Linked DNA regions of Homo sapiens: region 1 is linked to region 2. The links come from fine-mapping of genetic effects on gene expression. A gene starts in region 2. The other region holds a variant in brackets. All regions are shown on one strand. Distances are between the middles of the regions. Region 1 holds the start of MIR4645 (microRNA 4645). Region 2 holds the start of SERPINB9 (serpin family B member 9).

Region 1 (8,129 bases), 48 kb before region 2:
TAACTCAGCTCTTACAGGCAGTAATCATGGGTCAGACCTGCCATTATCCAGTTCAGCCCATTTCATTTGACAGACACCTGGTGAATAGAGACATGCAGGGACTCTTGTCCACATTTGCCCAGTTGGCTGATAGCACAGTGTACAAAGTCTGTCTGCAGCAGGTCATAATTTCACAGCTCTGCCACATGCATGTATATCACTGTACCAAGCGTGTTCACATGGTATGGTGCTGACACATGTTGACGGAATGTGGTACAGACCCTCTGTGTGAAGTGTGTTCACACAGTGCGGTGCTGACCCTCTGTATGAAGCGTGTTCACACGGTGCGGTGCTGACTCTCTGTATGAAGCGTGTTCACCTGGTGCAGGACAGACTCTCTGCATGAAGCATGTTCACACAGTGCGGTGCTGACCCGACCCTCTGTATGAAGCATGTTCACACGGTGCAGTGCTGACTCTCTGTATGACACATGTTCACACAGTGAGGTGCTGACCCTCTGTATGAAGCATGTTCACGTAGTGCAGTGCTGACTCTGTATGAAGTGTGTTCACACAATGAGGTGCTGACCTCATGTATGAAGCATGTTCACACAATGCGGTGCTGACCCTCTGTATGAAGCGTGTTCACACGGTGCGGTGCTGACTCTCTGTATGACACATGTTCACACAATGCGGTGCTGACCTTCTGTATGAAGCGTGTTCACACAGTGCAGTGCTGACCTTCTGTATGACACATGTTCACAGAGTGAGGTGCTGATCTTCTGTATGAAGCATGTTCACATGGTGCAGTACTGACTCTCTGTTTGAAGTGTGTTCACATGGTGCAGTGCTGACCTGTATGAAGGATGTTCACGCGGTGCGGTGCTGACTCTCTGTATAACACATGTTCACGCAGTGAGGTGCTGATCTTCTGTATGAAGCATGTTCACACAGTGCAGTGCTGACTCTCTGTATGAAGTGTGTTCACACGGTGCATTGCTGACCTTCTGTATGAAGTGTGTTCACACAGTGAGGTGCTGATCTTCTGTATGAAGCATGTTCACACGGTGCAGTACTGACTCTCTGTATGAAGTGTGTTCACACGGTGCGGTGCTGACTCTCTGTATGAAGCGTGTTCACACAGTGCGGTGCTGACTCTCTGTATGAAGCATGTTCACACGGTGCGGTGCTGACTCTCTGTATGAAGTGTGTTCACCTGGTGCAGTACAGGCTCTCTGCATGAAGCATGTTCACACAGTGCGGTGCTGACCCTCTGTATGAAGCGTGTTCACACAGTGCATGTGAAACCAGAACCGACAGTCGAACCCAAGCAGAAGTCTTGACCAAGCACTTCCCTCCTGGGAATGCACCATGATATCACCACACCGAAGTCCAGGCTGGCAAATAGGGACATTTAAGTGACATTTAAGCTCGTGGTGGCCCTATGAGGAGTCATTGCTGACTGAGATGGGATTTTAAGGTGTTGCCTGCCTGTGTGTTCTCAGACCCTCTCCTGAAGCCCCACCCCTTCCCCTGATCCTCTCCTGGGACCCCCCTCCCCTATCCCTGACCCTCTCCTGGAGCCCCCCTCCCCCCTCCCTGTCCCTCTCCTGAAGTCCCCTCCCCTGACCCTGTCCTGGGACCCCCTCGCCTTTCCCTGACCCTCACCTGAAGTCCCCTCCCCTTTCCCTGACCCTCTCCTGGAGCCCCCTCCCCTCTCCCTGTCCCTCTCCTGAAGTCCCCTCCCCTGACCCTCACCTGGGACCCCCCTCCCCTTTCCCTGACCCTCTCCTGGGACCCCCTCCCCTTTCCCTGACCCTCTCCTGGAGCCCCCTCCCCTCTCCCTGTCCCTCTCCTGAAGTCCCCTCCCCTGACCCTCTCCTGGGACCCCCTCCCCTTTACCTGACCCTCTCCTGAAATGCCCTGCCTGCACCATTGTCTTATATTTTTCTCATGGTTAGACTGGGGTTATGGTTTTTTCTGGGAAAGGCCACAGAGGTAAAGTGACATCTCATTGTGTCATATTCAGGGTCCATGCCATCAACATGACTCATCAGTGCTGACGCGGTGATGACCTGGGGGACGCAGTGTTTCTCAGGTTCCCCCACTGAGCCTCTGCAACTCCAGTAGTGACAAACCGCTCCACCCCCCGCCATCCATTTTCTTAATTGTTCAATTGCTAGTATCACATTTCATCAAGAGACGCATAGCAGAGTCCAACCAAGACTCCATGATAGAGAAACCAGGCAAGAACTACTGTCTCGTCGCAACTTGAGGAGACAATATTTCTTGCCTGGTTTCCCTATCATGGAAACTGAGTCCCCCACAGTTTCGTTTCCTCAATCGAGCTAATTACTGAGGTTGCTTAGCAGCCTCCGGAGTGAGCACAGCGGAAACTATCATTAGGGAACTTTGAACGTTTCTGTGAAATGCCAACAGGAAATGTTTCGGCATTTTCAAAATATTTAGAAAATTCCCTGTTCAGTTACAAAAGTGAATCTGAATCTTACCCTGCAGAAGTTAAACTGCTCCCTCTTCTGGATAAAATTACCTTTGTAATTTCTTTTTACAACCTACAGCCTATTGTGCTTGGGTTTCCAAATGGTTTAAAGTTCCCTTGTCCCTTACTTTGTGTCAAGGGGGTGTTTGTGCCTTAAAGGGAAGATCCTGTGCCTTAAAGGAAACCAGAACTGATAGTCGAACCCAAGCAGAAGTCTTGACCAAGCACTTCCCTCCTGGGAGTGCACCATGATATCACCACACCGAAGGCCAGGCTGGCAAACAGGGATGTACACGCAGGGGAGACGAGAACTTCTCCCGTGAGAAACAGCACAGTCCAGCCATATGAACCCACAGCTCAGGAAGTATTGCTCACTTTTACTGTTCTCTCTTAGGGAAGGGCATTCTCAAAACGTTTCCGCACAAGCAGACCATCCCTTTTATTTTCCCCGTCTGTCTCCTTTCCTTCTGCTTTCAAAATGTCTCAAGAGTATTTACAAGAGTTGAGCAACACAGGCATCTTTATCTGGGGTCTTTATCCACAGAGCAGAGGACAGGAAGTCATCACTACAGAGACGAAGCGATGTATGGTTTGACCCAGTGGAGGACTTTGTTAAGGTGGAGGTGTGAGTGTGGAGTGTAAACGTGGGACATCCAGGGCAGTGGAGGGTAACCACTGGAGAGGAAGTCTGGGGACAGTTTGGGAGCAGCCAAATATAAAATAAGCATTTCTGTTCTAAATCCAAATGAACATTCTACGCTGCTGTCATCTCCAGTATACCTCAGAGATCCTAAAGTTTCCTGAAGTTGTTTGGAAGTCACGGCCGATGTAAAGTGAAAGCGCACACATATCTGTAAGCTCTGAGCTCAGGATTTCACGTGAGGTCCTTTGTTCGGGAGGCAGGGGGGTTCTCCCTGTTGCTGGCTGAGGTCACTGCATTCATAGTGTGACAGGAGACAGCACAATACAGCAAAGCAGCTGGAGGGATTGCCTTGTAGAGTGGAAGACCTTCCGCAGAACAGAACGCTCTCTGTCCTGTTCTGCTGGAGAATGAAAAGGGATGGGTGGCCTGCGTGAAACCTCTTTATGGGGCTTGTGCGTTCTGACACTGTGACCGCCGAGGCCACAGCTGCCTTTGTTTCTTCCTCTCTGACCTCCATGAAGGGCTAGCGCACAAACTTGGACAGGGACGGCTCTATCTCTTGGGTGATATTCTGGAAAAGTCAGTCTTGACTTAGTCAAAGGCATCGGTAATTCCCCAACAGCTGAGAGCAGACTCCATGCTGCGGTTTTCTTGTAACTTGAATCGAGGAGACTTCCACATCTTTGCTATCCATTGCGCCTGGCTTTGTCCACTCGCTGACTTCTTCATATATAAGCTCATTTTCCACCTGGAAGAAAAGAGGAGAGAGCCTTAGGGCCCCAGCATTGGGTCCGCACCGAGGCCTACACTGCTCCCCCCATTCCCACCTAGGACCATGGCATCCCAGTCCTCTCTCCCTGTGGGAGGCTTTCACAGAGGTTCACATGGGCCCAGGCCACTATGATTTTCTGAGTCTCCTTGTTTAATAAAGAAAATGAAGTGCCAAATATTGTGGTATGTTTTAAAATTTTGTATTTAACAAGTGATCTTTCAAAAATGCAATGCAATCTAATTGCGCTATTCCGAAGTTAAGCATAGGATTTAGAAAACATTCTTATGGCATTTCTTTCATGGAACATGAGCTTAACTTTTATCATTAAAGTAATTTCTGTCCGTCTTTTCAGTGTATCTGTCTCTGTGACTCTAAGTATAGTAAGATTACTAGGAAATAATTTCAACATTTTAACTTTGAGGCCCTATGTGAGGCCCAAGATAAGCCCCACGCACCCCCATTCCCAGCCACAGGCTCTGCTGCCTGGCACCTCAAGGTCTGGACCCTGTACAGGGCTCCCACATGTCGACACAAGCTCCCATGTGTCACCTGTGCCTAGTAGAGAGGTGTATATTGCAACAAAAACTACAAATCAAAACAGGGCTGCAGCTCAAGAATCTTCAAGTTTCCTGTACCCCACCACTGGTTTAAGACAAGGATCAAGTTCATTTCAAGTAACTTATTAGTTACTAGTTAGTAATTGGTGGTAATTTCTTTTTTTTCTTTTTTTTTTAGATGGAGTCTCACCCTGTTGCCCAGGCTGGAGTGCAGTGGCACGATCTTGGCTCACTGCAAGCTCCACCTCCCGAGTTCAAGCCATTCTCCTGCCTCAGCCTCCCCA[A/G]GTATCTGGGACTACAGGTGCCTGCCACCATGCCTGGCTAATTTTTGTATTTCTAGTAGAGACAGGGTTTCAGCATGTTGGCCAGGCTGGTCTCGAACTCCTGACCTAAGGTGATCCACCCACCTTGGCCTCCCAAAGTGCTGAGATTACAGGCGTGAGCCACTGTACCCAGCCGATAATTTCATAGATTATCAGCTACCCTGCACATATTCATGTATTGCTTGTCAGTTGACAGGAAAGAGTCTTATCTTATTGGCCAAGAATTTAGCCGGCATCTTTGATCCCATCAGCAGTTTTGCACTTGATATTTGAGGAGTTTCAAAATGCTAGGAGGCTTTGATATTTTCTTTCACCTCAAAACGAAAATGAAACATGGTCCAAAAAGTTTGCGCTAAGACCAAATGGCCAGTGCAATTTGTACAAAGAGTTAACACTGTCCTTTTGGATTTTCAGAAAAAGAGCAAGTAACCTTTATGGAGACTGAAACCATAGCCATTTCCATGGAAGGTTGGGGCAAGAAGCCCTATTTTCAATTTGCTCACACAGAGGCTCTTCATGGGAAGGCCAGACTGCCATGGATGAAACATACAGCGGGGATGTATCCGAACACCGTCTCCTGGCCTGTGAAACAGACCAAGAAGTCCCCTTGGAGTTAGAGGGGCCTCTGTGAGCCCTGAGAGATGCTGCAGCCCAAGGAAGACATGGGAGGAGGCACTAAGCAGTGTCCCAGGAAGTCACATAAAGAAAACATCATTGGCTGCGCTGCTGCAAATCTGTGTCTGGGAGTTTGGGCCAGGGTGAGAGGGTCGCAGGCTCTGGGCGAGGTTTAGGAAGCAGGAAAGAGGAGTGGACCCGCTGGAAGCCAGAGGACAAGGTGGACGGGGTACAAGGAAAGGGGTCCGCCAAGGGCAGCCTGGGAGGACCCTCCTTGATCATGAAAAAAATGAGCAAACGGACACAAATGTCTTTTCAAAAAAGATGCCAAAGGTTGGCCTCAGCAAAGTCCCCTGAAGCATCCCCTTCTTGCTTTCCCTGAGAAGCTAGATTCTGCGTGTGGGGTGGGGCATCCGGACTTGGTGGCTTTCCTTCTGAGCTTTCCCCACCTGAGTCATCTGCAAAGGGCAAGGCTGCAGGCGGGAGAGGCCGGTGTGATGTGACCGCCAGCCACGGTCCCCACACCCCTCTCTGAGGGCTGTCCCCTCCACCTCATGCCATGACAGGAAACTTTATGACCTGTTCACTAAAAAATCACTTAAGGATTGGAAAGCACCTGTCTATAAATAAAGGCAAGGGGGCTGCCATTTTAAAATTGGGGGTGAGACTGGTCGTGTGCTCTCGAGTGGGCGGGGACTTACAGTAACTCAGAGGCAGGGCAGTTCAGGAGCTGTACATGAGCAGAGGCCCGGGTGCTTGGAGGCCGGCCAGCGTTGGTGGGCCTTCCTGAGGACAGGGTATTTGAGACATACAACAACAGACATAAGCAAGGTTATGATAAAGCTGCAAACCGTTTTCCTGTTTTCATGGGGGCGTAAAGCTAAAGCAGCACTGAATTAACTCTCGAAGTGGGAGGAGAGATCACTGTTGAGGCGGGAGAGGGGATATGGAAAAGTCTGCGTTAGGACTCAGCTGTGTCTGCCGCCAAGGCAAGGGTAACTAATAGATAACAGGCCTTAAGAATTGCTATCTTTGCTCCTCTTCCTGTCTCCCCCTCTCCCTCCCCCTCCCCCTTCCACCCTGTTTCTCCCTTCCTCTCACCCCCTCTCTGCTTCCTGTACTTTTTTTTTTTTTTTTTTTGAGCCAGAGGCTTGCTTTGTTTCCCAGCCTGGAGTGCAGTGGCGGGATCTGGGCTCACTGCGACCTCTGCCTCCCGGGTTCAAGCAATTCTCCTGCCTCAGCCTCCCGAGTAGCTGGGATTACAGGCACACGCAACCATGCCTGGCTAATTTTTGTAATGTTAGTAGAGATGGGGTTTCACCATATTGGTCAGGCTGGTCTTGATCTCTTGACCTTGTGATCTGCCCACCCCAGCCTCCCAAAGTGCTGGGATTACAGGCATAAGCCACCATGCCTGGTCTCTTCTTTCTTTCATCTGGCTTCTAGAAAAAGAAAGTTCTGCCTCAAGGCCTGGGAAAAATAGTTTGGTTTCATTTTGTTTTTCTCCAGCTGACAGTGGTTCTCTGAGTGAATGCCCCTTTCTCATGGCCCCACCTCTGTTTGACCCACCCTACCTCTTCCCCACACCCAAACCAGCCTCCTTCTGCTGCCAGATCATCCTCGGAGCCAGAGATCCCCGCTGGTTTGGACAATAAACATTTGTTGTGCACTTTCTATTACAGTGCCAAATATCAGGTTAGGTTCTGGGGAGATGAGAAAGGATTAAGCAGTGTCCCAGCCTCCAAGGAGATCATGTGACTCCACTGATCATAAATGATGGCCCTGGAAAAAGTTCCAACTCCTCTTCAGTATGGCTCCAGCTGAATGGCTCTGTCCCCTGCCCCTTCTCTGTCTGGGCTGGTCCCTCTGGTAACTGTCTTATGGGTCTTCTCCCTCCACACCGTCGCTCATGCAGGCCCTTCAGTGTAGTACAGCCTCACAGATGCTCAGCTCAGCAGCCCTTTGCTTGAGCTTTTGGGTTTAACCTCCATCCTCTTCCTGTTGTCTGTATCTCTGCGTCATCAAACATCTAAATTTAAGTCTCCTATCTGTGTGATCTTAGACAAGTGTCTAGTGTCAAGTGTCTAGTGGACAAAGGTTTCTAAACCTTTGTCCTCCATTCCTCATTTGTGAAAGGAAGGTAATGGCTTCCGCTTTGTCCATGGCTTAGAGTTGTTCTAAAAATCAAATAACATGATAAATAAATTTAAAAAAAAACAAGTAAGATAACAAGGGCTGGTCCAGATGTGGAGGAAGGGAACACCTGCACACTGTTGCTGGGAATTTAAATTAGTACAAGCATTCAGGGAAACAGTATGGAAGTCCCGCAAAAAATTAAAAATAGAATTACCGTATGATCCAGCAATTTCACTACTGGGTATATCTCCAAAGGAAATGAAATCCTTACCTTGAAGTGGTATCTACACTCCCATGTTCATTGGAGCACTATTCACAATGGCCAAGATATGAAAACAAGCCAAGTGTCTGTCCATGAATGAATGGCTACAGAAAGTGTGGTATACATATATCTGGTGGAATATTATCCAATCTTAAAAAAAAATTGTCATTTTCGACATGGATGAACTTAGAAAACATTATGCTAAGTGAAATAAACCAGGCCCAGGCACAGAAAGACAAATACTGAATGATTTCATTGATATCTGGAATCTAAACTAGAACTCATGAAAGCAGAGAGTAGAAAGCGGCTTGCCTGGGGCTGGGGAACACGGGAATGGGGAGAC
Region 2 (8,129 bases):
TGAAAGTTTAGTTACAAAGTCTCTTGCTCCAAAAAAGAGGTAGTTCTTTGCAACTTATGTTTCAAATAATTTCAGTGTCATTTTCTAAAGAAAGATTCTGCGCTAGGACAAGACAGCTTGGATGGTCTTTTCCAAGGGATTAACCGAGGAAAGTTTCCCCCAAATAAATCTCGGTGGAGCAGAGTTCCTGCCTCCCTGCCCTGCCCCACTTCTTCCCCAGTGGACCCCGCCTCCCTGAAACGGCCAGTGCACACTCGGGCCCCAGTCCTGCCCTCCTTTCTCAGTGGCTCTGGAGTGTGAGTGTGAAGCTGGTGACAGAACACGCAGCCCAGGCCAGTCCCTGCTCCTGGCGGACGGGCAAGCTTACCTGGGCCATCTGGGTTGCGGTGTTTCCCTTTGCCCCTAGGAGAACCATGGCCAGGGCAGAGGAGATGCTCACAGGAGAACAGAACACGTTGTGCGAAGGGTTATCTTGACACAGTATCTTTAAAAGGCGTATGGCAAAAGTACCACTTGCATTAGAAAGAGTTTCCATGATGCAGGGCCTGGAAGGGAAGAATAAAGAGAAATGCAGTTTCCACACTCCCTGAATGTTACTGACCTACTTACTACAGGGCAATTTTGGAATCGTACTTTTTGTTTTCTTCTTAAAGTTCGTAAGTATTTTAAATTGGAGAAAAATTTATTTTCTGTTAGTCTCCGGCCAAAAATTAAGTGCAAATGTTAAGGTAATTAGCTAAGTGTGGTGATGGCAGCAGCTCAAACCAGCAATAGCAACAGAACTGGCTCGCCTGCAGAGCTCGCTCTCTCACACACACACACACACACACACACAGAGCTGGAAGCAGTGAACTCCAATTCTTTCCGTAAGGACCAGATCGTCCCATCTGAGGAGGAGAATGGGGTCAGGGAGGAGGAGGAAAATGCTGTTCTTATTCTTGCATGCATTTACAAAGAGTCCTTGTGAGATTTTCAACTGGGCACCAGCCTGTGGCCTCCCTGACATTCAGCTGATACACAAAAGACACTGAGATGCTGAATCTGACCCAGAGACAGACAGCTGTGAGGCAAGGAGCTGTCATCCATAGAGGCAAGTGAGTGCGTCCTGGACAGCCGGGGTGGAGCCAGGCTGCTCCCAGTCAGCCAGCCTGCCCCAGGCCCACGCGGCCTGACATCCCAGTAACTCCATTCAGAGCTCCTGCCCATCACCAGCTTCTGCACATCATGTGACCCTTGAACACAGAGTGGGACTTGGACAATTGTGTGGTTTTGCTTCGTTTTGTTTTGTTTTTAATGTGCTTCCTAACTCAGAAACATCTATTTGGGAGCTTTACTCATTACTCCCAGCAAAAGCCATGAGTGTAGATTGTGCGTGAGAGGAAGGATCTGATCCCTGCAGAACGCCAGAATGGAAAGGCAAGAAACAGCCCAAGGTGAGGAGTAAAACAGGCGAGAACAAGGAGGTGGTGCCTGTGAAGCCACTGGAGACCAAAGTGTGAATGTGAGGGGGTGGGTCTCTTGGCCACAGGCCTGAAACCAAATGAACCCCCACCCCCAGGCTGCAGTTCCCAGTGCACTTGGAAATGAGACCCTGACTCCTCCAGGTGAGCCTGGGAGACCTCCCTGACTCCTTTCCATCTCCCCCTCCTCCCCCACACCCATCCCCAAGGCCTGCCCTCTACGCCCACATTTCTTCCCACTTCGGATTCTGTGCCTGGTCTAATGCCCAGGCCCCCTCCCGAGCCTCTGGTCTCCCTAGAGCCACTCCCCACTGTCGGGACACCTCATCTGTGCTCCCCAAAACGCCACGCAAAGCGCTGGAGAGCCTTGGACAATGAACACAACCCACTCCCCCAGCCACCCCCACGCCACAGCCACACGGCACCTCAGAAAGCGGTGTCTTAATCCTCTTGTCCTTCCTCCTAAATCTCCCAGGGGCCCTTAGGCCCCTCAAAGGTGGCCGCTCAAAGCCACCTTGTTAAAACGGTGTCTTACCCACCTGCCCCCTCCCTTGATCCAGACTCACTGAGGTCACAGCCTCCACCTCTGGCCATCCTGAACCCCTCCCAAAGTCAACTCTTCACAAACACTGTTGGTCCCCCTTAGAAGGCCCCATGTCCATCACGGCATTAATTCCACTCACCCTCAAACACCGCGGCCCGGAGGCTCTGATTCCCACCCTGGAGGAGGTTCTCTTGACCCCGCCGGCGCGACCCTCCCCAGCACGACCCTTCCTCCCGAAGGTGATTCCTCATCTTGCTGGTGGTCCCCACAGACCGCAGGCTCTGCAGGCGAGCGCTGAGCCTGGCTCTGCAGATTCTCAGGACCCCATTCGTTTAGCTGAATTATTGAAAGAATTAAGATGGATAAGAGTGCTCAGATTTGAAACTCCGAGACTGGTGGCTTTATTTTTTTGTTGTTGTTGGTGGTGGTTTTTTTGTGTTTTTCTTTTTTTTGTTTTGAGACGAAGTCTCACTCTGTCTGCCAGGCTGGAGTGCAGTGGCGCAATCCCAGCTCACTGCAACCTCTGCCTCCCGAGTTGAAGTGATTTTCCTGCCTCAGCACATAGCTGACATTATTACAGGCGTGGGCCACCATGCCCGGCTAATTTCTGTATTTTTAGTAGAGACCGGTTTTCACCACGTTTGCCAGACTGGTCTCGAACTCCTGATCTCCAAGGATCCGACCGCCTTGGCCTCCCAAAGTGCTGGGATTACAGGCGTGAGCCACTGCGCCCGGCCGAGACTGGTGACTGTAAAGGACAGTGAAGAAGCAGGACAGACGTCATCCTGCGGATCCCAGAGCAGAGAAGAGCAGTGAGAACACAGGGCCGGCAGGTGGGGAGGAGGCTGCAGGGGAGGGCTTCGGCCAGGGAAGGGCAGCGAGGAGACATCCGGGAGGGAGGCGTCCGCGGTGGCTGTGGGCCGCCAAGGCGGAGACCGGCTGCCGCTCCCAGGCACCCCCCAGAGACCGTTGCTGACCCCACCGAGAAGGCACCGCCTCCCCGGGGCTCTTGGCTGAGCGACCTCTCCTGTCCTCCGGTCCCATCACTCGGTGGCAGCCGGTGGACCTGAAGCTCGCCACTCCCGTCCCCTACCCCAGCCGTGCGCGGGGACGCCCTCACCTGCCACCTAGTCCAGCGCTGCCGCCGTCTCCGTGCCGCGCTCCGAGCCTGGACGCCGACCCCCGAGGCGCAGGACCCGGCCCTGCTGCTGCGCTCGCCGCGGACTCCCGCTAGGGCCTCTGCAGGCACCGCTTTTATACCGCAGGGTCGGGCGCCTCCCACGCTTTCTGCGTTTAGGCGGAGCCTGGCGGGACCAGCGGGGGCGCCGCGCGTGGTGGCCGAGGTCAGAGCTGGGAGCAGGGTCAGGTCAGGGTCCCCCCAGTCCGCCCCGCCCGGGGCGATGTCCGCCAATGCTCCCGCCAGCCTGAGGCCGGCCAGGTTCCCAAGGCGCGCGCTCGGCCTCACCCACCCCCGGCGCCAGGGCCTCTTCAGGACCGGGTTCAGAACCTGACAGCCCAGAGAAGTAGGTTGGGAGCCTGCGGCGTCCAGGGCCTCCGCGCGAAGAAACAAGGCGTCTGCGGGAAAGGAGACGGAGCCTGGAACCCTGGGCTTTTGTACTTAAGGAAGCGAAGGTCGGGTGACAGCCAAGCTCCGTGTTCCAGTGGGAAGGTCCCATGGGTCTGTGTTCCACGCCTCTTGTCATGAATATGGGGGATTCACTTAGAACCAAAGCATTTGTTCCAGGTCCCACCACTAACTAGTACTAGTCCTGGGCCCAGAACCAGGCGTCCTCACTCCTAGTACCCAAGCCCTTCTCTAGCCACAGGTGTTTGGGCTGCGGTGTGGTGTAAGCAGCCCCATTTTCCCGCAAAGTGATGGGAAGAGACACTGAGTCACACGGGCTCAGGACACTCCTTGTGTCCTCTATCAGGGGGTCCAGAGGCAGGGACTCGGGGGAGTTGATGCAGCAGTTCGTGATGTCATCAGATATCCCCCCACCCCCTTCCATCTCAGGCTGGACTCAATTGGAAGCATTTCATGTTGGCACGGTGACGTCCAGAGGAAGGGAACAGACAAATGGCTCTCTCTGGAGCACGGAGCGTCGCCCAGAAGCCGTGCCCTCCTGTTTCAAATTGACCAGAATTAGAGCTTTCTCCTGAGGGCCTGAATTAGGGAGAAGCAAGGCAGGTGCCTAAGGCACAAAATTTCAGGAGGGCCACACGCATAGGTGCCAACCCTGCATTTGCGCGGCCCTGAGAATCAGAGCCTCCTTCAATTTGACACCCTAGGTGCCTAGCTTGTTTTTAAAAATAAAACCTTTATTAAAAGACAATTCACGGACCATAATATGCATCCTTTTAAAGCATACAATTCAATAGTTCTTGGTATATTGACAAAGCTGTCCAACTCTCACCACTATCTAACTCCAGAAGGTTTTCATCACCCTAAAAGGAACTGTGATACCCATTAGCAATTATTCTCCATTTCCTCCTTCCCACAACCCCTGGCTTCTGGGAGAGGCTCCGACCTCCAGATTTCTTTTCTGGCCCTGCGGATTGACCGACTGTGAAGATTTCATGCAAATTGAATCATACAATATGTGGTCTTTCCTGACTGCCTTCTTTCACTTAGCATAATGTTTTCAAGGGTCATTCTTGATGGTTCCAGGTAGCATTTGTTAGTACTTTATTTCTTTTTATAACTGAATAATACTTATAAAAATATTATAAAATCAAAAGGGAAATTAGAATGTATTTTGAAATTAATAAAAAATGAAAATAAAAACATCAAAATTTGTAGGATGTTATTAAGTCAGCTTTGGGGAAATTTTGCAGCATGAAATGCCTATATTAGGAGAGGAGAAAGGCTTCAAATCAATGACCTCAGTTTCTACCTTCAAAAACTAGAAAAAGTATAAATACATTGAACACATAATCAGTAGAAAAGAAGAAATAATAAAGATTAGAGAATAAATCAATGATATAGAAAACTTTATAATGATAGAGACAATTGATTAAACAAAAAGCTGTTATTTATTTATCCACTTATTTATTTTTTTGAGGTGGAGTCTTGCTCTATCGCCTAGGCTGGAGAACAATGGCGTGATCTTGGCTCACTGCAACCTCCACCTCCCAATTCCAGCGATTCTCCTGCCTCAGCCTCCCAAGTAGCTGGGACTATAGGCATGCATCACCATACCCAGCTAATTTTTGTATTTTTAGTAGAGATGGGGTTTCACCATGTTGGCCAGGCTGGTCACGAACTCCTGACATCAGGTGATCCTCCCGCCTCAGCCTCCCAAAGTGCTGGGATTACAGGCGTGAACCACTGTGCCTGGCCATACCCATGAATTTTAAGGCAACAAATGGGGGCATCGTTGTCAGTGCCATTGCAAGAAAGTGTCTGAGTAAACGTGGACCATGATGGCATAGTGCAAACATGTTAGCTGCCTCTGTGCTCCGAGGCCTAGAGGAAACGTCCTTTCAATCCAAATCATGTGACCAGCGATGGAAAATGGGTTTAGGAAAGGATAAAAACACAGAACTATGAAAACAAGGTTATTTTAGCTTTTCCTTTCCTTTCTCCTCTTTCCCCCACTAAAAATTGTATGGGGGGGTGGGGCATGAAATCTGTTCAGAAATAGCTAAGAATCAAGAGATTTTGCAATTACCTATATTTTTCATTTAAAATCTCTTCTACTTTATTACTTTAAGAAAGTCACAACATATCACAAAAATATTTCTTTATCTGATTGCTCATCATGGTTTTCCCAGATAGAAAATACACAGGGCCCCAGAGGAAGCATTTTTCCAGGATTTTCCAACACTGTCCGGAGGAAGGGAGTCTTTGATCCTCACACCAGGTCCAAGGATTTTTCAAAAATCACTACTTCATGATCAGACAAGCCCAAGAGAAATGACAGAATCATGTTGCTGGCCTGAAAACCTGGCAAACGTGTAAGCAGACCTCCGTCACTGAGGACCCACCCAGCAGTAACTTCCTTCCTAGCTCCAAGTTCACTGCAAATAAAGTCCCTCACCACCAATGACCCAGCCGTTGTGCGTCTCTAGACTCTTCTGCATCTTTAGCAAAGGCCACATTTTCCAGCTCTACCTGTGGGCATTTGACACACTTCCTTAAAGTCCTGCAAAGAGCAAAATATGGAGCGTGGCCCTATTCATTCTGCAAAGGTTTCCACAACTTTGAAAACATTTCCCTGCCCCCAACATGTTCCTATCATGCTTGTGACACAGTCAGGTTCCATTCTAAGACTCATGCATTCAGTTAACAAAAAATAATTCGCTTCCTGCCATGGGCTTGGCTTGGCACTTGCTGGGAACTTGGTACCAAGTTGAAGACACAATATCTGGCCCAAGAGGGCAGCAGTCTGAGGGAGAGACGGCGAGCACACTGAGGTACTTCCAAGGTGCCCTGAACACCCCTAGAATGGCCCAGCCCAACACTTAAGCTCCACAGGGACTTTCCACTAAATCTTCTGTCTCCCACACCGGACTGCGAGCCTCAGGACAGCCTAACCCTCCTTTACTAATTTTTATATTAGCACACTGTACATTTGGCCACCGGTACCTCAGGTTCCACATCCACAGATTCAACCAACTGCAGATGGAAAAATTTTTTAAAAAATCAAAAAATAATACAAAATTTAAAACAATACAGTATAACGGCTATTTGTACAGCATTTACATTGTATTAGGTATTATACATAATCTAGAGATGATTTCAAGCGTATGGGAGGATGTTACACAGGTTACATTTGCATAGGTTATATGCAAACACTACGCCATGTTATATTAGGGACTTGAGGATCCGCAGAGCTCAATGTTCGCTAGGATCCTGGAATCAATCAGATACCAAGAGACAACTGTATTTGCTGAAGCGTATTTGTTGAATGATTGAAAGGCTTCATACTGGGATTAGATGATCAAGAAATAGAGATCTGCAAGTGGGCAAACAGGGAAACGGCATTTCAGATCTGCATCATCCAGGTGGCTTGAGAGAACAGGGACCAAGGAAGGTCCCTGAAGATGGACTTGGAAGGGTCTGGAGGTTGTGTGTGTGTGTGTGTGCGCGCTCGAGTATGTGTGTCGAGGTTGTGTGTGTGTGTGTGTGTGTGTGCTCGAGTACGTGTGTCGAGGTTGTGTGTGTGTGTGCTCGAGTACGTGTGTCAAGGTTGTGTGTGCTCGAGTACGTGTGTCAAGGTTGTGTGTGTGCTCGAGTACGTGTGTCGAGGTTGTGTGTGTGTGCTCGAGTATGTGTGTCCAGGTTGTGTGTGTGTGTGTGCTCGAGTATGTGTGTCAAAGTTGTGTGTGTGTGTGCGCGCGCTCAAGTATGTGTGTCCAGGTTGTGTGTGTGTGTGCGCTCGAGTATGTGTGTCGAGGTTGTGTGTGTGTGTGTGTGTGCTCGAGTATGTGTGTCCAGGTTGTGTGTGTGTGCTCGAGTACGTGTGTCGAGGTTGTGTGTGTGCTCGAGTACGTGTGTCGATGTTGTGTGTGCTCGAGTACGTGTGTTGAGGTTGTGTGTGTGTGTGCTCGAGTACGTGTGTCGAGGTTGTGTGTGTGCGCTTGAGTACGTGTGTCGAGGTTGTGTGTGTGCTCGAGTACGTGTGTCGAGGTTGTGTGTGTGTGCTCGAGTACGTGTGTCGAGGTTGTGTGTGTGTGCTCGAGTACGTGTGTCGAGGTTGTGTGTGTGCTCGAGTACGTGTGTCGAGGTGTGTGCTCGAGTACGTGTGTCGAGGTTGTGTGTGTGTGTGCTCGAGTACGTGTCGAGGTTGTGTGTGTGTGCTCGAGTACGTGTGTCGAGGTTGTGTGTGTGTGCTCGAGTACGTGTGTCGAGGTGTGTGTGTGCTCAAGTACGTGTCGAGGTTGTGTGTGTGTGCTCGAGTACGTGTGTCGAGGTGTGTGTGTGTGCTCGAGTACGTGTGTCAAGGTTGTGTGTGTGTGTGCTCGAGTACGTGTGTCGAGGTTGTGTGTGTGTGTGCGCTCGAGTACGTGTGTCGAGGTTGTGTGTGTGTGTGTGTGTGTGCTCGAGTACGTATGTCGGGAGGGGGATAAGAAGAACACAGCAGCAGGAGATGAGCCTTGAAACGTATGTTGAGGTCAAATCG

Evidence for each region.
Region 1: its variant is fine-mapped to the expression of SERPINB9 in whole blood (TOPMed, PIP 0.91).

Annotation. Positions count from the first base shown.
Region 1 is chr6:2,851,822-2,859,950 of GRCh38, forward strand. It overlaps MIR4645 (microRNA 4645), which reads right to left and starts at 2,286; the gene lies at 2,210-2,286. It also overlaps the pseudogene SERPINB9P1. RefSeq lists enhancers at 521-710, 2,006-2,746, 3,323-3,382, 3,443-3,572, 6,758-7,337. The variant A/G (reference allele first, on the strand shown) is at 4,735.
Region 2 is chr6:2,900,077-2,908,205 of GRCh38, forward strand. It overlaps SERPINB9 (serpin family B member 9), which reads right to left and starts at 3,233. Exons shown (of 7, transcript NM_004155.6): 1 at 3,125-3,233; 2 at 368-545. The coding sequence starts at 535. It overlaps SERPINB9-AS1 (SERPINB9 antisense RNA 1), which reads left to right. Exons shown (of 5, transcript NR_110841.1): 5 at 407-600. RefSeq lists enhancers at 2,697-3,198, 7,687-8,129 and silencers at 2,909-2,958, 3,199-3,278, 3,379-3,428.